3 separate regions of the Homo sapiens genome follow, and regions 2 and 3 are each linked to region 1. The links come from fine-mapping of genetic effects on plasma protein levels. Region 1 holds a variant in brackets. A gene starts in each other region. All regions are shown on their forward strands. Region 1 overlaps SNX17 (sorting nexin 17). Region 2 holds the start of CD276 (CD276 molecule). Region 3 holds the start of COQ7 (coenzyme Q7, hydroxylase).

The links. A credible set is the group of variants that fine-mapping cannot tell apart. PIP is the posterior inclusion probability: the model's chance that the variant is causal. Protein levels are from antibody-based Olink assays in UK Biobank. Linkage for the fine-mapping came from a reference panel and not from the study's own genotypes, which makes the PIPs less certain.
Region 2: it holds the start of CD276, and the variant in region 1 is the best candidate, but not a certain one, in a credible set for the plasma level of the CD276 protein (UK Biobank, PIP 0.53).
Region 3: COQ7 starts here. The variant in region 1 is the best candidate, but not a certain one, in a credible set for the plasma level of the COQ7 protein (UK Biobank, PIP 0.56).

Annotation. Positions count from the first base shown.
Region 1 is chr2:27,372,981-27,380,078 of GRCh38, forward strand. It overlaps SNX17 (sorting nexin 17), which reads left to right. Exons shown (of 15, transcript NM_014748.4): 4 at 267-331; 5 at 881-991; 6 at 1,105-1,195; 7 at 1,366-1,453; 8 at 1,709-1,778; 9 at 2,081-2,173; 10 at 2,526-2,729; 11 at 2,866-2,991; 12 at 3,126-3,203; 13 at 3,333-3,407; 14 at 3,499-3,540; 15 at 3,626-4,555. The coding sequence ends at 3,739. It overlaps ZNF513 (zinc finger protein 513), which reads right to left. Exons shown (of 4, transcript NM_144631.6): 3 at 5,487-6,074; 4 at 4,255-5,391. The coding sequence ends at 4,565. Among named protein-coding and RNA genes, the nearest start is that of ZNF513, 4.2 kb to the right of the region's middle. RefSeq lists enhancers at 4,722-4,881, 5,496-6,366. The variant T/C (reference allele first, on the strand shown) is at 2,250.
Region 2 is chr15:73,675,891-73,686,017 of GRCh38, forward strand. CD276 (CD276 molecule) reads left to right here and starts at 8,493. Exons shown (of 10, transcript NM_001024736.2): 1 at 8,493-8,570. RefSeq lists enhancers at 7,382-7,890, 8,908-9,414 and silencers at 8,274-8,323, 8,444-8,573, 8,584-8,713, 8,874-8,923.
Region 3 is chr16:19,064,549-19,069,548 of GRCh38, forward strand. It overlaps COQ7 (coenzyme Q7, hydroxylase), which reads left to right and starts at 3,066. Exons shown (of 6, transcript NM_016138.5): 1 at 3,066-3,189. The coding sequence starts at 3,117. It overlaps COQ7-DT (COQ7 divergent transcript), which reads right to left and starts at 3,143. Exons shown (of 3, transcript NR_119381.1): 1 at 3,033-3,143. RefSeq lists a silencer at 3,090-3,249 and an enhancer at 3,280-3,429.

The DNA.
Region 1 (7,098 bases):
GGAGAGAACTTAATTTGTATCTGATGTGCTTTAGATTAACATCATTGTTATTTCCCTAGTTCTATAGACTGGACTCACCTAGATGGCAGCCAAGGGTGGGGCAGGTGAAGAATTTATGCAAACAGTGAGTGAGGTGAGGCCAGCTGGGGGATGTGGCAGGCCACCATCAGCCCAGGAAATGGGGTCGGGGGAACCTACTGAGAGGAGGACTGGGGAGCCAAGAGTGAGTGCTAAGTTCCTGTAATAATGTTCTCTTGTCCTCGTAGTTCGGCAAGACCCATTGCTTGGGAGCAGCGAGACTTTCAACAGTTTCCTGCGTCGGGCACAACAGGTAGGGCTTTGGGTGGGACCAAGATTTAAGGAAAGGACCTTGCTGGAAGGTCATGTCTTTTATTTTTTTGAGACAGAGTCTTGCTCTTTTGCACAGGCTGGAGTGCAGTGGTGCGATCTCAGCTCACTGCAATCTCCGCCTCCCGGATTCAAGCGATTCTCCTGCCTCAGCCTCCCAAGTAGCTAGAATTACAGGCGCCTGCCACCATGTCCGGCTCATTTTTGTATTTTTAGTGGAGACGGGGTTTTGCCGTGTTGGCCTGGCTGGTCTCGAACTCCTGACCTCAGGTGATCCACCCGCCTTGGCCTCCCAAAGTGCTGGGATTACGGGTGTGAGCCACCACACCCAGCCAGGCCATGTCATCTTAATAACAGAGGAGTCATCTTTTTTAATGGAATGGAACTTCTATTCTTATGAAATCAAAGAAATCACAGCCTATATTTAAGCAGCTGAGAATAAAGACACACAAGGGACCTAGAAATAGAGTTGGGCATAGGTCAAGGCAAGGGACAAGGCAGTGCTTCCCATCCCCATGTGTGCTCACAACAGGAGACACAGCAGGTCCCCACAGAGGAAGTGTCCTTGGAAGTGCTGCTCAGCAACGGGCAGAAAGTTCTGGTCAACGTGCTAACTTCAGATCAGACTGAGGATGTCCTGGAGGTGAGGCGCTTGTTCAGCACTGCCCCTTCTTCCCCTACATCCTGGGGTCCTGGGCTTGGAGAATGATTGGAACCAGCCAGTATGATGAGCTGTACTTCTATCCCTATCCCCAGGCTGTAGCTGCAAAGCTGGATCTTCCAGATGACTTGATTGGATACTTTAGTCTATTCTTAGTTCGAGAAAAAGAGGATGGAGCCTTTTCTTGTGAGTTTCTCTGGACTTGACTGCAGTACAAGGGTACTTCAGTAGAGTTTGCAGCCCCCCTAACTCCCCACCCCCACCCCCAGAATGAACATTGCCTCAGGGCACTTCTTTCTTGATTTCCCTTCCTTTAAATCTCACTATATTTTCATTTTTTTTTTTTTAACCTGTAGTTGTACGGAAGTTGCAAGAGTTTGAGCTGCCTTATGTGTCTGTCACCAGCCTTCGGAGTCAAGAGTATAAGATTGTGCTAAGGAAGAGGTCAGGGCTGGGCCTGGAAGGGGAGGGGTGGGAGGTGCTGTGCTGGATTGGATTATTGGGCCACATATTGAGACAGAATAATCTGGACAAGGGGGTGTAGTGCTGGGTGTTTCTGCCAGGCCTCCCAAGCTTCCTCCCACTATACCATTAGCCCCTGATAGTTCCAGATTGCTCCTGTTTTGCCCATTTTCCATTCTACCTCTTGCCTTAACCCAGCTTAGCCCCATTACCCCTTTCCACCCCTTGGCCTCACAGTTATTGGGACTCTGCCTATGATGACGATGTCATGGAGAACCGGGTTGGCCTGAACCTGCTTTATGCTCAGGTGAGCTTGGAGCTGCCTCAGAACCCTTCCCCTGAAGAAAATAACGGGTGACTCACTCTCCCAAGAAAACTGCTGTCGTGTCTTTGTTCCCAATTTGTGGGGAAGTTCCTAGAATACTATCAGTGCTGCTGGCACAATATCTACTCTCCCTACTTTTATTAAGCTGACAAGATCAAGGACTTACTGCAGAGAGGTCGCTCAAGTGTGGGGCTAGGGGTCAGGCTGGACAGAGGTAATGGTAGACGCTTTCCTTGGATTGCTGACTGGGACCTCCTACTGCCTGCCCCTTGTCTCTACTATAGACGGTATCAGATATTGAGCGTGGGTGGATCTTGGTCACCAAGGAACAGCACCGGCAACTCAAATCTCTGCAAGAGAAAGTCTCCAAGAAGGAGGTGAGCCCTGCCTCCTCTCTGTCTTCCTCTAAGGGCTTGCAGTGGCGCGATCTTGGCTCACTGCAAGCTCTGCCTC[T/C]CAGATTCATGCCATTCTCCCGCCTCAGCCTCCCGAGTAGCTGGGACTACAGGCACCCGCCACGACGCCCGGCTAATTTTTTGTATTTTTGGGAGAGACAGGGTTTCACCATGTTAGCCAGGATGGTCTTGAGCTCCTGACCTTGTGATCTGTCTGCCTCTGCCTCCTAAAGTGCTGGGATTATAGGCATGAGCCACCGCGCCCGACCGGGGTTGCTTTTTCTGAGCTGCCCCATTCTCCCTCCTAATCTACCCCCATGTGATGACCATTTTTCAGTTCCTGAGACTGGCCCAGACGCTGCGGCACTATGGCTACTTGCGCTTTGATGCCTGTGTGGCTGACTTCCCAGAAAAGGACTGTCCTGTGGTGGTGAGCGCGGGCAACAGTGAGCTCAGCCTGCAGCTCCGCCTGCCTGGCCAGCAACTCCGAGAAGGCTCCTTCCGGGTCACCCGCATGCGATGCTGGCGGGTCACCTCCTCTGTGAGTCGGGTTAGGAGGGGGAAGGGCCTGGGTTGGGGGCCCGGCAAGCCTTGAGCTTAGGTATGGGCTGCAGCGGGTCAGGGAGCCAGACAGGTTGGTCAGAGTGAACTCAACCGAATTCCCCTTCCTCTCCCAGGTACCATTGCCCAGTGGAAGCACGAGCAGCCCAGGCCGGGGCCGGGGTGAGGTGCGCCTGGAACTGGCTTTTGAATACCTCATGAGCAAGGACCGGCTACAGTGGGTCACCATCACTAGCCCCCAGGTGTGAACCTACCCTCAGCCCTCCTCTGGAGCACCTTAAAGTGTAGAGTTTCCAGTACTCAATATGGGAGGCATTAGTGGTGCTGGGCTCAGAGTGACCACTCTCATCAAGCTGGACACTCTTCTTGCCCTCAGGCTATCATGATGAGCATCTGCTTGCAGTCCATGGTTGATGAACTGATGGTGAAGAAATCTGGCGGCAGTATCAGGAAGGTAGGCAGCAAGTGTGGACTGAGCAGTGAGCAGGTGTGCTCCCCTTGCCTTTTGTCCTAGATGTGAGGCTTGTCTTGAGAGGGAGGGGAAGTGATCCTGCCCTCACCGGCACCTTGTGTCTGTCCCCAGATGCTGCGCCGGCGGGTGGGGGGTACTCTGAGACGCTCAGACAGCCAGCAAGCAGTGAAGTCCCCACCACTGCTTGTAAGTATTACCTCCTGGTCAGAACCCTGGCTCTCAGCCCTGCCTCACCTCTCCTAGTGAGTTTCTGACACCTCTGCCTCTTCTTCCCCAGGAGTCACCTGATGCCACCCGGGAGTCTATGGTCAAACTCTCAGTGAGTTCCAGCGTTGGTGAGGTTGCTGTTTGTTGGGGGATCTTGCACGCCCAAGATCTCTGACCCCACCCTGCCTTTGTTACAGAGTAAGCTGAGTGCCGTGAGCTTGCGGGGAATTGGCAGTCCCAGCACAGATGCCAGTGCCAGTGATGTCCACGGCAATTTCGCCTTCGAGGGCATTGGAGATGAGGATCTGTAATCTCCACTGCTTGGATGTCTGCCCTCTACCCCAGAGGAATTTACAGAAACTTGCCCTGTGCCTGTGTCCCCCATGCTAGGGGCGGAGGGGTCTTTTCCTTCTTCTTTCCTACCTACCCCTTTTCTCTTGGCCAGGGGCCTCGTATCCTACCTTTCCTTGTCCCCTGGGCTGGCTGCACAGAGGATTGCCCCTTCTCTTTTCAGAGCTGGCCCTCGATGCCAAATTAGCATTTAGTATTTTGCACAAAGTCTAAGGGACCATGGCTGCCTGCCTTGGGGAGGAACCATATCTCCCTCTGGGCCGCTTCTGGCCTCTTGGAGCCATGGGCCAAAGGCCAAGGGGATGGGCAGAGGTCTGTGTTTGGTCTGGCCCAGTTCCCCATCATTAAACTCAGCCTGACTGCTGCCTACCTCTGGTTCCCTCTCACTGCCCCTGCTTCCCCCATCACAGCATGGACTACTATGCTAAGGGTAAGGCCAAATTGCCTGCCATTGCCAATTCAGCATAGACATGGCTTTGTTAGTGTTTCCTTTATTATAAAGCACTGAAATAAGTTAAATAAACAGGTGGGAGGCTGGGCAGTCCCCCAGCCGGTTTGTCCACAGCCCCTGGGGGCAGTGGAGGTGAATACAGGGCCCTTCTCACTGAGCTCGTGAAGTGCCTCAGTCAAGGCAAGGTCCCCTGGTCCATATGGGCCCCCCCGCCCATGGGGTTGGGCTGGTCCTTATAGTGCCTACGTTAGTCTGTGTGGAGCCCCTGGCCAGCGGGGGAGAAAAAGGTGGCTTCTGGTCCGTCTGTATAAAACATGGGGAAGAAGGACCTAGTTCAGGATGAGTCTGTGTGGACAGCCCGGCTGCCAGCAGTCCCCAGGGCTGGTGGGCCCCGAGAGCTCAAAACAGAGGGTGGGCTATGAGGTGGGGCCCAGCCCTCAGAGGCAGAGAGACCAGGCCCTCCTGCCCCACCGTGGCCATGCACCTTCTGGTGGCGCTTGTAGTTGTCCCAGTGGCCCGTGGTATAGGCGCAGGTGGCACAGCGGAAGGGCTTCTCGCCTGTGTGCCGCAGCATGTGACGTTTGAGGTTCATGCTCTGGTTGCAGCTGTAGTTGCAAAGGCTACACCGAAAAGGTTTGTCACCAGAGTGGATGCGACCATGACGCTTGAGGTTGGCCAGATTGCCACAGGCATAAGGGCAGAGGGGGCACTTGTAGGGCTTCTCTCCTGTATGGACGCGCTGGTGCCGTTTCAGGTTATCCAGATGAGCAGAGGCATAAGGACAGCGGGCGCAGCGGAAGGGCTTCTCACCACTGTGTGTCTTCATGTGCCGGGCCAGGTGGTTGGGATAGTGAGTGGCAAAGGGGCAGAGGCTACAGGCAAAGCCTTTGTCACTGGGGCCCTGGGGCCCCCCACTGGCACCCCCTCCAGCCTCTCCTCGCATGCAGCGCCCACACATGGCAGCTCCCAGCCGACTACCCTCACCCTCCTCCAGCTCTTGTCCACAGCCCCGGCAGGTCCAAGGGAATAGCAGCTCTGGCAGTGGTTCTGATCCAGTCCCGCAGAGGCCCTCCCCTTCACCCCGCAGCTGCCCACAGTCTGGCAGGAAACTGGCACCACCTGGTGGCACATGGAGGCTCAAATCTGGAAGGAGCAGAGCATCTGTGGGGACAAAGACCTGGGCTATGAATCCAATCCAAGCATTCCTAGGGTCAGCCACCCATGTCCCAAGATCTTTGGTCCCTGGTGTGTCTTACCTTCAGGTCGCCGGGGCACCGCCCCCTCCTGCTCTGTGGGACTGGGAGGCCGGGCTGGTCGTGGAGTACAGCAGCGGAAGCCACAGGTCGGGCAGGGAGGAGTGGGGGGCCCTGCGTGGGTACGCTGATGCCGCCTCAGGTTGCCCAGGCTGCTGCAGGCAAAGGGGCAGTGGGGACAGCGGTAGGGCTTCTCGCCAGTGTGGGTGCGGGTATGTCGTGTCAGGTTGACGAGCTGGGCTGAGGCGTAGGGGCAGCGGCCACAGCGGAACGGCTTCTCTCCGCTGTGTGTCTGCATGTGCCGCTTCAGGTGGCTCGAGTAGTGGGACACGAAGGTGCAGAGGCGGCATGAGTACAGTAGCCGTGGGGGCAGCAGGGGCCCCCCACCCGGCCCTCCTGCCCCACAACACGGCCCCTCACCTGTCGGCCCCCCACACAGCTGGCAGGCTGGGCCTGGCCTCTCACCCCTGGCCTCCCCTGGACCCCTGGCTGGCTCCTCAACTTCACTCTCCGCACTTAGTGCCCGGCCGCCCCCAGACTCATCGTCGCTCAGCCCATAGGGAAGCCCAGGCCTGGCCCCCAGAGAGTCTCCTGGTGAAATAGACATAAGAAGAGACATCAGCATAGGGTAGGATCAGGCTCCAAACTCTCCCCTTTTCACTTATGGTCTCCCCACTTGCTTGGCTCCACCCTTAGCTTTGATGATCCCTTTAGTTCCCTCCTAGGAATCAAGGTCTCCCCTGCAGTAATTCCAGAAAATTCAACATGAATTGTCTACCTCTTACACTGGACTAATCTAGTGATGGTAGAATTGACCTGTATCTAGTTTCCCTCAATGGTCAAGGATCAAGGGCTCACAGTGGATCACAGACTGAAATGAATCCATAATGAAATTAATTCTTGAGACAAGAAAGTAAAAATACGAAAGGGAGAGAGCCCCCAAGACCTTTTTCTAAGCTCTATTGCTAAGGCCCCTTTTAGTAAGGAGCTGATATAAAATAAAACCTATCTCTGAGGCAAAATTTGGAGGGAAGTGGAGACAATGAAAGTAATGCATGTAATACCACTTGCCTGCCTAAAGAACAGATATTTACATGGATCCCCTCAATGACTTTCAAAAAACATCTTGCATAAGTGGATGGGTAGTGCAGCAAATTAGGGTAGGGTGATGCTAAGATCACAGGGAAGAGGGACATGGAAGGATAAAGACAGAAACTAAAACCTCTCAATACAAAAGGAGCTTACGCTGCAGGTGAAAGGGAGTTAGATTAGACCTAAATACTGGGTTGAATGATTTACAGAGAGTTTGCTTCCCTGAACCTCTCTTAAAAGTAAATACACATAAGGAATGGGCTAGGGAGAGAGACAGGGCATTTACTTTTAATCAGTTGCTCCATGTGATTCACCCACCCTCCTATTCCTATCACCTTTGACCAGGCCTCAGAACTTCACCTCAACAAAGTGATGGAAGTGATTGGACCATTAAACAAATGAAGTCATCTAGCTCAAATGTAAACTAAACCAGCCCTCGGTTGTGGCAGGAAATGGTGTTCTGTTCACCTAACCTGCCTCCTGAAGGGCTGGGGTCTCCAGCGGCCGCTAATCCTTAACCAAG
Region 2 (10,127 bases), not on the chromosome of region 1:
TAGGATTGTTGGTGTGGGTTTTGCAAGAAACAGAAAAATCAGCTGGGTATGGTGGCTCATGCCTGTAATGCCAGCACTTTGGGAGGCCAAGGCGGGTGGATCACCTGAGGTCAGGAGTTCGAGAGCAGCCTGGCCAACCTGGTGAAACCCCATCTCTACTAAAATACAAAAAATTAGCTGGGCCTGGTGGCAGGTGCCTGTAGCCCCAGGTACTCAGGAGGCTGAGGCATGAGAATCCCTTGAGCCCTGGAGGCGGAGGTTGCAGTGAGCCGAGATTGCTCCACTGCACTCCAGTTTGGGCTACAGAGTGAGACCCCATCTCAAAAAAAAAAAAAAAAAAAAAAAAAAGGAAAAGAAAAAAAGAAACAGAAAAATCAAGGATGACCGCAAGGTTTTTGGCCTGAGCCAAAAGAAGAATGAAGTTGCCATCGCCTGAGATGGGGAAGACTGCAGGATAAATGGTTTGTTGTTTGTTTTAGTGGCAGTGGGTAGGCAGGAGGATGAAAATCATGAGTTTGATTCAAGACAAGTTAGTGAAGATGTTGAGTAGGCAGTCGGGTATACAGAATTAAAAGATACAGTCCAAGCTGGAAACTTGAATTAGAGCGTTCTCAGCACATAGATAGTATTAAAGCCGTCAGACTGGATGAGATGACCGAGGGAATGGGTCTAGACCCAGAAGAAAAGAGTGTGAGTACTAAGTCCTGGAGTTCCTGTACATTAAGGGGTTGGGGAGAGGAGAAGGATCCAGCATAGGAGACTAGAAGGAACAACCAGCAAGGTGAGAAGAAAAGCAAGAACTTTCTGTTCTAGAGGCAGAAAGTGTTTCAAGAAAGGTAGTGAATGATTTGGAGACAGTGAAAAGATTGATGATGCAGGAGAGGAGAATTTCTGGCGTGATGTCCTTGAGTAGGCAAGTTGCGCAAAAGGAGGGCTGACCTGAATGGTAGCACAAGGAGGGAAGGCAGAGGGTGTGGCCCAGGTGCTCTTTTCTCTGCTCCCAGACCTGCTCTTCTTGAGGTGGCCTTCCCCTTCTGCCCCCTGCACTTGACCCATTTCCTGGTGCCAGACTCTGCAAGCAGCACTACCAGGGTAATTAGATCGATGTCTTCCCAAGTGTGTGTTGTCTTAGAGAAGGTCAGACCTGGGCAGGTCCCTGATGCCTTTCACTTATTGAGTTCTTCCCATCCTTCAAGGTCAGCTATAACCCAGCTCCTCTGCGAACCCTTCCCTGACCTCCACAGCCTCAGTCCACACAGCTTTCCCCTCTCCTTCCATCCCATTTCCTTCTTCAAGCTGGGCATTGAGGAGCATCCTTGGAGACCTAGGACAGGTGAGGACAGGAGCCCATTTCAGCTGCATTTCCACTTATCACCAGGAGGTGGCTCAGAGTAGCAAGTGCCTATGTCAACCATGATGGAAAGAACTTGGAAAAGGAGTAGGGAAGTTGGAGACTGTTAGTTCCTTTCTGGCTCTGCAGGCCGCTTGTCCATGGCGCTAGCCTGCTTCATTAGTCCTGTCTGCTGCAGGGCCGAGGAGGAAATTCTGATGCTCTCAGTGAGAAATGGTGGCTCAGGGCTGCAGAGGAGCTTTAGGAGGACTCTGAGAGGAAAAGGCCCAGAACGGTTAAGCTACCTCCTCCCGCCACATGGTTAGTTTGTGGCAGGGATGAGAGGTGAGTCCTGGTGTCCTGGTTTTCAGCCTGCTGTACTGTCAATGCCCCTTCCCGCCAGCCAGGGTCAAGCATTCACTCCAGAGTTCAAGCCTTCATTCAGCTATAGCATCCCAGGTGGGAGTGAGGGAGCATGAGTGAGGAGCCTGGAGGAGAATGAGCCAGAGTTCCTGCCCTAAGGGAGCCCTCAAAGTGCCTGGGGAGATATGACATGTGGCTTGGGCCAAGTGGAGAACACTGTGGGCAGCACACATCAGAACAGACCAAGGCTGAAGCTGGCACCTGCTCCTTGGAGGAGGCTTAGGGAAGTAAGTGGATTGGTCCAGTTTGAGAGGACAACCTCTGATAGACTCCCTCCTCTTAAGCTGGGAGGAACTGGACTACATGAATATTTATGGAGGGGTGGAGGGTGATGGAGACGGGCCACATTTTGACAGCAATGCTGACCCTAAAGAATAATGAAGGGCTGGTCAAGGAACTACTAGGGTGAGGGGAGAAACTCCAGCTGGAGTCACTCCTCAGAAGCCACACATCTGGCTGCACATCTCCCTGAGTGGACGGCATCAGTGCTGCTGCTCAAGTTCCTGTTTGGAAACCCAGAGCCCATCCCTGTTTGCCTGTGAAGGTGCCAGGTTCCTGCAGAAAGTCTGCTTATAAAGGATTTCTTTTGAAGTTATGTTTGTGATGGTCTCATCAAGAAAACTGAGGAAGGAACAGGAGCCACACATGTCATTTAGCTGAAAGTCCTGTTTTAAGAAAACAAACGCAAGGTTGTATTCATGAGCAACTGCTAACCACAATAATGGAAGAAGCAGTTAAGCTAATAAGATATAATACCCCATACTTCATGTAGTAACCTTGGGAGAGGTAGGCCAGTGGGCAGGAAGCCCCATGTCTGGTGGCAGAAGCAGGGTGGGAAGGAAACTGCAAGAGAACTGAGCCTTGGTCACTGACTGAGGATGTTGCGATTCACACATCCTGCTTCGTGGCCTGGATTGTCTCGAACTGGGTTCTTCCCTAGCACCAGTAACCCAAGTGGAGACCTAGCAGCAGCCAAGACATGTTCCCAAGAAGGGTCACTTTCACTGCAAAATGCCTATCTCCAGGAGAAGAGGGGGAGTGGACTGAGAGAAGCCAGGGAGAGAGAAAGGGCAGGGATTTGCAGTCAGTTGTCCTGCCTCAGGGATTAGGGTTGACATGAAGAACTGCAGGTTAAGAGTGCTCCATTAAGGAAGATTAGATAAACTGTTCTCACCACTGGGGCAGTTAAACCTTCCCTTGAGTCCCTTTGGTAAGGTGCCCTGAAGATGCCTAGGCATAATGTCACAAACCCAGCTGAAAACGAATACCACAAAGAGACCCTGTGACTCTGAAAACAGCAATATTTGCACTTAAGATTCAGCACCTGGCTTACTCCTGTAGTCCTAGCTACTAGGGAGGCTGAGGAAGGAGGATTTCTTGTGCCCAGGGGTGAATTCAAGGCTACAGTGAGCTACAATTGCACTACGGCACTCTAGCCTGAGTGACAGAACAAGATCCCGTCTCTTAAAAAATAAAAATAAAATAAAAAAGGATTAAACTCCTGGATTGAAATTCAGATTTCTGGATTCCATATGGTTTATCCACTATCTTCCTTAAGAGGGCCATCACCACTGGCTTGTGAGGCAGGGCCCCTTGTTCTCCAAGCCAGGGGCACTCGATCTTATTCATCTAGCAGGAACCCTTAGTTGTTCTGGTCAGTGCCTGCTTCTCTGAGCCTGTCTTGGGGCAAGCCTAGGAGCAGGGCCAGGACGAGCATGAGGTACCTGCACCTATGATGCAAAACTGAAGGAGGTGCTCACTTTCAGGTCAGCGCAAGGGTGGAGCCTGTTCAATTATTTGCATGTGAGAGCTATTAGAAAAAAACAACTCCCAATGAGATAGAAGAGTTCCCCTGGTAGCATGGTGCTGTTTTTAGTTTGTTCTGTTGTTTTGTTGTTTTGTTTTTTAAACTCTGTACAACCCTCCTATTTGGAGGACCTGCCACCTTCCTTCCGACTCACCAGCAGCAGGACACAAACTCTGAAATGGCTTCCCGGTATTGGGAGTGTTGTCAGCCAAGATTATAGTAAAGAAATTGGAAAGGGAAAGGGGATTGAATGGTTCAGTTTCACCGGGGATGGGGAGGAAGACAGATAATGGAAAGGGTGAACAGGGAAGAAGAGCAGAGGCTGGTGAGTCAGATAGAAGCAGCTAGTTAGAAAAGACTGCTTAGAAGCTCTTTCGTTATGTTGTTGTGTGTGTATTAGGGCCTTAGGGTTACGGAGTGTTCCCAGGCGATCCTCCCTGGAGGACCTGCTCCTCTTTCATTAGGCTGCTCCTGTTATTTTGCTTGCCAGATGCTTCCAGCTGGCAGTAGTTGGTTCTAGACATTTGAAGCCTATTCCAAGACTCAATTCCCAGGACTAAGAAACTAGGAAGCCGGAACCTGCAGTGGTTGCTATGCACCATATTCAGTTTTACACCGGATTCAGTCATTTGAGAGAAATGTGGTTGCCTTAAGTCTAGGCTGGATGGAATGGTTCCTGATGGCACCCTATGAGTCCTAAGTGAGTGGGCAGAGTGGAGTGCGGGTGGGTGGCTTTTGCCAAGACATCAAGGATTTGAGGCCTAAAAATGCAAACAACTTGGGAAGTAATATGCACCAACCAGCCTGAGGGAAGGGAGGCCAGTGCCAAGGTATTGGCTTAGTGTCGCAGGGATCCTCGATAAAATCCCCAATCGCCACTTGGGCCTTAAATCCCTGACACTGCCAAGAATTGATTTTTGTTTCTTATGGAAGCAGTCAAAATGAATACATTTTCAGTATCATTCTTAGGAGAGGCATCTCAATGTTTCTGAGCCGCTTTCTATGAGATGGACTGCTTAGCTGCTCTAAAAAGACAGAAATATCTCCATAGCTTACACTGTACAGTTTGCATTATCTAAGTGTATTTAAATAGATGAGAGAGACACTTTCCCTTTTGCATGTCAAAGGAGGCAAAAGGAAGTTTTCTCCTAATTTCAGTCATAATTTCTGCCCTGAGGAAAGTTATAATGTTCTACTGTATGGATACACCACATTTTGCCTATCCATTCATCTGGAGATGTAGACACTTGCGTTGCTTCCACATTTTGCCTATTGTGAGTAATGCCACTAAGAATATGAGTGTACAAATATCTCTCTGAGACCCTGCTTTCAATTCTTTGGAGGTATGCCCATAAGTGGAATTGCTGAATCATATAGTAGTTCTATTTTTATTTCTATTTTTTGAGACAGAGTCTCACTTTGTCACCCATGCTGAAGTGCAGTGGCATGATCTCAGTTCACTGCAACCTCCGCCTCCTGGGTTCAAGTGATTCTTCTACCTCAGCCTCCCAAGTAGCTGGGACTACAGGTGAGCGCCACCATGCCTGGCTAATTTTTGTATTATTATTATTTTTTTAGTAAAGATGGGGTTTCACCATATTGGCCAGGCTGGTCTTGAACTCCTGACTTCAGGTGATCCTCCCGCCTTGGCCTCCCAGAGTGTTGGGATTAGAGGTGTGAGCCACCTTGCCTGGCCTATTTTTAATTTTTTGAGGAACTACCAGACTGGTTTCCATAGCTCAAGGCTGCTCCTTTAACAAGCTTTCCCCAAAGCCTCAATCAGTGAGTTTCATTTCCATCTCATTTGCCACACTGGGTCACGTGACTGCCTCTAGCTGCAAGGGGGTCTGAGAACCCACGTATTTTCAACTAGGCATAGAACTTCTTAGAACAAATGCTACACTCTGTTGGTAAGGAAGAAGTAGAGAATTAATTTTAGTGGACAACTAGCAGCCTAAGGGCAAATGAGAACACTGAAGGGCTTCAGGTAAGCAAGAGACATTGTGGGAGGATTTGCGCTTTAGAAGGCTCTCTCTGGCAGCTATGGACTGAGGAGTCACAGTCAGCAGAATTAGTTAAGAGGCTTCAACAACAATCCAGTGAGGAGTGATGGGGGTTCAGATGAGGATGGTGTGGCAGTAGGGTATTCAGGAAAGGGAGGGATTCCTAACATATTCTAGGGCACCCCTTCAAGCCTGCCTGGATATTGGCAGTGGGAAGTGGGGGGAAGTGGGAGGGAACGAGGGATGAGTCCAGGTTTTGAGCATAGTCCTTCCTGTATATCTAGAAGGGGAAACAGGTTTTGGGGACATGTGATAATTCAATTTTGCACATGTTGAATTTGAGGAACCTGCAGGATGGTAGGTAGATAAAAAGTGGGATAAGGCTTGTCCCAATCTGGGTCTTTTGGGATTGGTTTGTGACCTCCTTGGGGAACTTGAAGCAAAACTGGAGATAGCACATTCTGAGTCATCTACTACTGTGCTGACCTAGGAAGCAGGTTGTGGGGAGGTGGGGGGTGGGAGGGATAGAGGTGAGAGGGGTAGGGCTGCTGTCCAGAAAGAATGCATGAAGACAACCTTCCATCCTGAGTTTTTCTGGTTCTGACGGGAATCTCTGTGTAGCACCTCCATTCCTGAGTTCCCAGGGACAATCAGGCAAACATTCTCTGAACCAAGGAGACCCCTGCATGATGGGATGGTCATTCTAGCTATCTGTGTCCAGATCCAAGTGTCTGAGTCTCAGATGAGCTGGTCCTACACATGTGCTATCTGTGCCCTGCCCAAGCTGTTTCCCCCTCCTAGGGGATCAGAGCCCTCTCAATCTGCTGCTTCCAGGAATGAGAGCCAATACACATTTCCTTCCCTCCTGACCTCTGCTCTTGAATGATTATTTTAAAATCTCCCCCCATAGACACACTATAAACTGCTCTGTGATGTTCCTTCACTGTCCACCATGGCTGAGTCATGCCAGATTATAAATCCCTTAGGACAGGACCAGCGTCACCACCGCAAGGCACAAGGCACAGGACTGACTCTTTGTGAAGGGAAGGAAAGTAAGTTTCTCTAGATCTGTTCAATGCCACCTCCAGGGTCCTGCAGCAGGGCTCCTAGCTCCCTCAGCCCAAGGACACCTCTCCATGTGATGCTACTTCCCCAGGTTGCTGGGCCAACTGGAGGCTACTCATCCTGAGACCTGTAAGGCCAGACCCAGGCTGGACGAGGCTGGTCAGGGCCTGGCAGGGCAGTGGGGAGCAGCGTGGAATGGTCCAGAGTTCCTGGAGGTGGTCAGGGACAAGACAGCTGGGCCTCTCTGCTGTCATCCCTAGGAGCAGTCAGCAATTACACAGACACAGCTGCTGTGTGATTCAAAGACACATATGCACGTAGACTCAAATACAGAGTTGCTTGAATGTGTTCACAAATATACACACCCGGCCGGGCGCGGTGGCTCACGTTTGTAATCCCAGCCCTTTTGGAGGCCAAGGCGGGTGGATCACAAGGTCAAGAGATCGAGACCATCCTGGCCAAAATAGTGGTGCGCACCTGTAATCCCAGCTACTCTGGAGGCTGAGGCAGGAGAATCGCTTGAACTCAGGAGGCGGAGGTTGCAGTGAGCCGAGATTGAGCCACTGCACTCCAGAGCCAGACTCTGTCTCAAAAAAAAAAAAAAGACAAAAACCCCCCACAAATATACACACCCATGCACCACCACCCCTACCCATACACCACACGCACACTTAAATTCAGAGGGCAAATCCCGGTTCCTCCCTTCATAGCTATGTGTCCCCAAGTTACTTAATCTCTTTGTATCTTAATTTCCTTATTTCCGATCTGTAAAAATGAGAATAATGGTATTCACCTCAATGAGTTGTTGTGAAGATTAAATGAGATAAAATGGTAAAGAGCTTACAACAGTGGCAACACATGCAGAGAGACGCACATGTTTTCATACTCATTTCCCAAGCCCTGCCCAGTACTGCCACTGGCACTGGTGGTGAGCCTGGCAGCAGTACAAGGTTGGAGTCCCTTCATCCCTTTGAGCCTTGGTTTTCTCATCTGTGAAATGGGAATAATAATATCTAGCCGGCGGGGCTGTTTGGAGGAACTAAAGAGGCCCAGCATGGAAAGCTCCTAACCTAACTCTGGCCCACAAAAGTCTCCCTACGTTTTAGCTGTCACTGTCCCTGTGAGGAAGAACAGATCCAAGAACAGGTGCAGGGATGGGCTGCACCACAGCAAAATCTGGACAGGCCCGACCCCCATCTCCTCCCAGGCTGGAGCGGGGCCCTGTAAGGACAGAGCCCAAGGCCACTAGGTGTCAGGCCTGTTGGAGCCAAGTCCGGCCAGCAGTCTGGGGTGGGGCTGGGGGCAGGGCTGGTCGGATGGCCGTGGGTGGAAGGAAAAGAGGAAAACCAGCTCAGTGGAAATTGTCCTGCGGTTGGCTCAGGCGCCCACGACACTGTATTTATAGAGAGCTCCTTGCAGCTCTTAATTCCTCGCAGTCGAGTTAACCCTTTCTGGGCTGTGGTGCCAGCATGGTGTGGAGGAAGAACCCAAGACTGGGGTTGGACAGCAGGATTCCAGCCCTGTTCTGCCGCCAGTCGATGACCAGTCAGTCACCTATCCCCTCTCGCAGAAAGGAAGATTCGGCTCTTGGAAGTGTGGGAACGGGGTGGGGGATGGGCAGCGCCCTGCTCCGGGAGCCGAGGGTTTTCCCCGCCAGGGTCAGGCCTGGGGGCGGGGCGGGGCGGGGGCGGGGGCCAGGCCGTGTGCTCTGCCCAGCGGGCTGGCTCAGGCCTCGGTCAGCAGCCGCCACCGCGGGGCCAATCCGGCCTCAGGGACGCACCGGAGCCGCCTTTCCGGGCCTCAGGCGGATTCTCCGGCGCGGCCCGCCCCGCCCCTCGGACTCCCCGGGCCGCCCCCGGCCCCCATTCGGGCCGGGCCTCGCTGCGGCGGCGACTGAGCCAGGCTGGGCCGCGTCCCTGAGTCCCAGAGTCGGCGCGGCGCGGTGAGTGCTGGCGTGGCGCGGGCGGCGCGGGGTGGGGCGGCCTTTGTCTGCTGCGGGCCGGGCCTGGATCCCGCGGAGGTCCGCACGTTCCCGCTCAGGGCTGCAGGAGCTGAGCAGGGCGCCTTCCCTCCGGGCTCCTGCTCCCCTGCCCTCCCCCAGGTCCGGGCGGCCCCCCTCGCACAGGAGTCCCGGGAACCGCGGGCGCCCCTCCTGCCCTGGGCTGTGGGGCCCGCGGAGAGCTGGGGGCTCCCGGATCCTACCCCGCCCCCCTTTCCTCGGGTTGAGAGGGGCCCGGGCGCCGTCGGACCTGCAGACCCCGGAAGCTGCGGACCGGGCCGGGTGGGTGAATGCGCTTTTGCAGGCCCCGGGTCTGGAGCGGGCATGGGGGCAGATCTGTCCCGTGTTGAAGCTTAACGAAGCCACCGGCCGGCGCTGGGAGGTTAGCGGGGTCTCGGGTCCTGCAGAGGAAAACGCCCAGCTCCGGGAGGGGAGCGGCGGGGAGGGAAGGCGAGTGGTTAGGCGTGTCCACTCTGCAGGGCCCAGCAGGGCGAAGGTGTGGGCGACTGGTGCACTTCCACAGGCAGCCGTGGGCAGCATGAGGGGTCAGATTCCGGGAAGGACAGGTAGAGACGGCTGGCAGGGGCCACGGGGTGAATAGGTGTTGGGGGTGGGGAGGGAATTGGGATGGGCAGTTTGGGCTTGGGAAGCCTCAGGGAGGTGGGGGGTGAGGTGGGATGGAGAGGAGATGCGGGCGACGGTGGAGGGAGGTGGGGACCCCGAGTGGGGGCACACTAGAAGGGAGGGGATTGAATTCCAGCGCCCAGGGCCCTCCCTGCGACCGTTTAGCTAGCGAATTGGCAGGTTTGGCAGCCTAAGGCAGGGGATTTATTTCTAAGCCAAACCTGCTCTAATGAGAAAAGCGTGATAGATGACTCAGATATGGGATCTATCACTGAGGGAAAACATTAAGCAAATAGTAAAGCAAAAAAGATTTGTGTGTGTGTGTGTGTGTGTGTGTGTGTGTGTGTGTGTGTGGCGGGTGGGGGGGTGTTAGTTGTCTTAATTTAGAAAAACGATTTACCTTCAAATTGGATGTGGATAATTGTAAATGAGTCTGATCTCTTCATTAAAGCCCGGGGTCCTTTTCTTATAAGCATGTCTTCAGCAGTTAGTTTCTATATTAGAAAGTAATGAAGCTGCTTTGTCTTTAAGAGAGTTCTTTATTTAGTGCGGCCTCCTCTAGTTCCCTCTGGCCTCCCAGAAGTCCCTAGGAAATCTGATGCTGTGCAGCCTTCCTTGTAGTGTGGGGGACTGCAAATAGGTGGGACAGTTTGAGGCTGAGGGGAACTGAAGTCTAAACTTGAAGTCTAAACCTGTCCGATGGGTTGAGCTGATCTGAGTGCAGGGCAGGATGGAGGGCTATGGGGCTGTAGGGTATGAAGTGGCTCATTTCAAGGGAGTATTTTGGGTGAGTACATTTTCCTGATATCTGGAGTTCTTGAGATTAAGCACTAACACTTAGGGTAACTGTTGACCGTGGAAATTTACATACGTCAC
Region 3 (5,000 bases), not on the chromosome of region 1:
GGGTTTCTCCATGTTGGTCAGGCTGGTCTCAAACTCCCGACCTCAGGTGGTCTGCCTGCCTCGGCCTCCCAAAGTGCTGGGATTACAGGCGTGAGCCACCGTGCCCGGCCGTGTTTTTTTTTTTTTTTTTTTTTTAATATGTAGTCTCTATTGCCCAGGCTGGAGTGCAGTAGTGCGATCTCGGCTCACTGCAAGCTCTGCCTCCCGGGTTCACCATTCTCCTGCCTCAGCCTCCCGAGTAGCTGGGACTACAGGCGCCCACCACCACACCCGGCTAATTTTTTGTATTTTTAATAGAGACAGGGTTTCATCAGGATGGTCTTGATCTCCTGACCTCATGATCTGCCCGCCTCGGCCTCCCAAAGTGCTGGGATTACAGGCGTGAGCCACTGTGCCTGGCTGTGTTTTTTTTTTTTTTTTTTTTTGAGATGTAGTCTCACTCTATTGCCCAGGCTGGAGTGCAGTAGTGCGATCTCGGCTCACTGCAACCTGGGTTCAAGTGATTCTCCTGCCTCAGCCTCCCAAGTAGCTGGGACTACAGGTGTGTGCCACCATGCCCAGCTAATTTTTGTACTTTTAGTAGAGATGGGGTTTTGCCCTGTTGGTCAGGCTGGTCTTGAACTGCTGACCTCAAGTGATCCTTCCACTTCGGCCTCCCAAAGTCTGGGATTACAGGGGTGAGCCTCCGTGCCTGGCTGGAACTAGTTTTTTTAATGGATAATTTGGTGGGTAGGGGGATGGAATTAGGGAATAGTATGCATTTTTGTTTTTTAAATTTTGTTTTGCCATTATAAAAATACTTGTTTTTTATAGCAAATACAGAGAACATCAAAAGCAACAGAGAAAAAAACTTAAAAAGCAGCACTTATGGGCACGCACTGTTAATCCTGGCAAAATTCTTTTTAAGATAGAAAGTACAGAGGGAGGGAAAAAGAAGGAAAAAGAAGGAAAGAACTTTGGTATTCTAATTTCTTTTTCACTTAATATGTGTTTTCCTGAAGAATCTAGTGTTTTCTCCTGTTATTAAAAGCTCTTTACAAACATTTCAATGGGCTACATAACATCATACAGTTGGATTTTTTTTTTTTTTTTTGAGCCAGAGTCTAGGTCTATCACCCACTCTGGAGTGCAGTGGTGTGATCATGGCTCAGTGCAGCCTCAACCTCCTGGGCTCAAGTGATCCTTTTAGCCTCACAAGTAGGTGGGATCAGAGGCACACACCACCATGCCTGACTAATTTTTAAAATTTTTTGTAGAGATGGAATCTCACTGTGTTGCCCAGGCTGGTCTTGAACTCCTGGGCTCAAGTGATCCTCTCGCCTCAGTCTCCCAAAGTGTTGGGATTACAGGCGTGAGCCACTGCACTCGGACATGATGTTTTGATATTCAATTGTTGCTTAACATTTTGTTTCCAAATTTTCCCAGTAATAAATAATGGGCACATCTATAAATCTTTGTCAACATTTTTTCTCCTTAGAAACAGAGACCTAGGCCAGGCGTGGCGGCTCACGCCTATAATCCCAGCACTTTGGGAGGACAAGGTGGGAGGATCACTTGAGGTCAGGAATTTGAGACCAGCCTGGCCAACACAGCGAAACCCAGTCTCAGCTGGGCGTGGTGGTGTGTGTACCTGTAATCCCATCTACTTGGGAGGCTGAGGCAGGAGAATCGCTTGAACCCGGGAGGCAGAGGTTCCAGTGAGCCAAGGTCTCCCCACTGCAATCCAGCCTGTGCGACAGAGTGAAACTCCATTTAAAAAGAACAAAAACAAAAAACAAAACAAAAAGGAAACAGAGACCTAGAAGTGGTATTACAGCAAAGGTTTTGAACATTTTAAGGCTTTTGAGCGCCAGATTCAGACACTCAGTAGTTTTACATGAGAGTGCTACAACATCCTCACTAAGTAGTATTTGGGTTCATCATAATTTTAAATTATTTTGGTGTGTCAATTTGAACACTAGAGTGATATAAAAACTAAAAACTTGAATTCAATAATTTTACAATTGTATTCCATCTTAAAATATTTTATGGTAAACTTGGATAAAGTATATAAATAATCCAAGGGTGTAAAGTAGAAAGTGAAAGCTCCCTTCTCCCAGTTCCAGCCCCCTGATGTTGCCAATATTAAACGTTGTATATCCTTGCAGACACGCATCTTTGATTTTTGCCCTCATGTACATTACTCATTTAAAAATTATTTCGTTGAGTAGATTCCTAAAAGTAAGACTGCTGTATTATATGATCTTTTTAAAGTATGTTGCTAAATTTCCCCTCCCTTCTCAAAAAATTCCAATTTGCACAAATATACATGCATACATGCACACAGTACATTAAGGTGGATACCAAGGATAAAACATGTTCTCTGTTTCTGAAAATAGAGAAAAGACCGGGAAGAAGTTTAAAGTTGGCTTTCAGCCCACCAATAGAGATAACACTATATAACACCATTAACCATGTGGTGCATGTAATTTAGATATACATATAATTTTATTTATTTATTTATTTTTCAGACAGGGCCCAGGCTAGAGTGCAGTGGCAGAATCACGGCTGACTGCAGCCTCGAGCTACCGGGCTCAAGCTATCCCCCCACCTCAGCCTCCCGAGTAGCTGGGACTACAGGTGTGCTCCACCAGACCCGGCTAATTTTTAAAATTATTTGTAGAGGCGGGGTCTCGCTATGTTGCCCAGGCTTACTATTTTAAAGTAGATGTAGGATACAAATAAAAAAAAAAATCTCCTTCCACGTAGGTAAAGCAGGAAATACCGTGCCTTGTTAATAAGTAATTCCCTCATGATCCTTTTCCCCAGGAACTTGGGTGAGAAATCATAACCTTGTCCTGATCTTTCTAAACAGCAATTTAGCATTTTCATCTCCCTGGCAACCCAAGGCGCCTTGGCCTTGGTCTTCCGAGTGATTGACAGTGACCCCACCCAATAAAATCTTTTTATTTGTCGTATCTAACCAATCTAACCCCTAGCGCAGAGCTAGGGGGCGTTCCCACCGGTGCGCGGGCGAGCTGAGCCTTCCTTACGTCTGCTGTGCGTCATCAGTCCGAGCCAAGGGCACTATTGGCCAGTTCCGTTCAACGAAGTGGTTGCTTTTTTTAGTTCCGGCAATGAGTTGCGCCGGGGCGGCGGCGGCTCCCCGCCTTTGGCGGCTGCGCCCGGGGGCCCGGCGGTCCCTCTCAGGTAAAAGGAGGCGCGCAGTCACAGTCCTGCGCCGGTCTAGCGAGCTAGGGAATTTTCGCTTGAGGTTTGGGTCGAAGAGGTCACGGGGGAGAGGTTCGTAACGTCACAGGCCTGCGACGGAGCGCGACTGCGTGACTTCGGCCTCCGGGGCGCTGGCGGGCGGGGCGGGGTCTGTAGTTAGCGGCGAGAGTGACAGGAGGACAGGGGTTGTTTCGGCAGTGACGCCTGGGGAGTGACGCAATTGCACCCCTGTGCAGTGATGTCACGGCAGGTGCGGCCAGCGTTCCGAGTCGAGGACAGTTGGCGACACTGAAAATTCAGCGTCTCCGGGAGTCTCTCTCTTTGTAGTCTTTGCCCAGGGCCTTGCCAGGCAAAGGGTAGCCCGACGACCAGCAGCCTCCGCTACTTCTGGGCGCTCGCTAGAAATACAGATTCTCGGGCCCCACCCCGACCTACTTGGTCGGTATCTGTGATCTGTGAACAGGACCTTTAGGTGATTTGCATGCACTGTAAACTGTGAAAGCCATCAGTGTAGTGGAAGGAGCATCGAATTTAGAGTAGAGAGACATGGTTTTGGACCCTGGTTCCTGCTTTCCTTGTTTCATCTGTGCTGCCTTAGAAAATTGTCATGAGCCCGGGCGCGGTGGCTCCGGCCTATAATCTCAGCACTTTGGGAGGCCGAGGCTGGAGGATCCCCTGAGGTCAGGAGTTTGAGACCAGCCTGGCCAACATGGTGAAACCCCGCCTCTACTAAAAATACAAAAATTTGCCAGGCGTGATGGCAGGTGCCTGTAATCCCAGCTACTCAGGAGGCTGAGACAGGAGAATCGCTTGAACCCGGGAGGCAGAGATTGCTTTGAGGCGAGATTGCACCACTGCACTGCAACCTGGGCGTCAGAGCGAGACTTTGTCTCCCCCGCGCAAAAAAAAAAAAAAAAAAGAAATTTCATGAAGTCGTTTTCTCAACGTTAAATTACCGTGTACCACTTTCGGGATTTTTGCCTAATGGCAGTACTGCTTGAACTTTTGATTACTAGATGTGTTTTTTTGTATAGCTATGTCCCATTTAAAAATTAAATTAATTTCCTTGAAACAAAATCCTTATGGTGAATGGGAAGCCAGTGCCACTTGCCACAAATGGGTGAGTAATCATTAAAAAAAAACAAACAAATTAAAAAGTTATGAAATTGTATTAAATACTGTCTTTCTGTTACAAAGGGGAAATTAGCAAGTGTTGGGAAAGTGTTAAGGCTATACCAGCTGTAAATGGAGTTATCTTCCTTAATGAAAGAGATTGCAAGAGATTTTGAAAGAGTACCCCTTACTACATGGGGTTATTTGCTGCATATCCATAAGCCACTTAATATTTTGTAGGTACCACACTGGCATGTTTCACACTTTGGGAAAATATGGACATAAAGTGATGCATTTGAGAGCTAGCACCGAGCCTCAATTTTACTTTAAAGTATATGGTAATGCAGGCAAAACTCCGAGGGTTGTTGAATGTGAATTTTAATGCTGCTCTGTTCAGCCAGTGAGCATAACAGAATAAGACTCATTTCTGTTTATAAAGTTACTTTGCTTCTTATATCTTATTTTATCCTCATAACTCAGTAAGAAAAGTTTATTATTGTATGTTTTCCCTTAAAAAGGAAAGAGCCTGATTATTGCCTTTTTTTTTTTTTTTTTTTGAGGCAGAGTCTTGCTTTGTCGCCCAGGCTGGAGTGCAGTGGCGCGATCTCAGCTCACTGCAACCTCCGCCTCCTGGGTTCAAGTGATTCTCCTGCCTCAGACTCCCGAGTAGCTGAGGC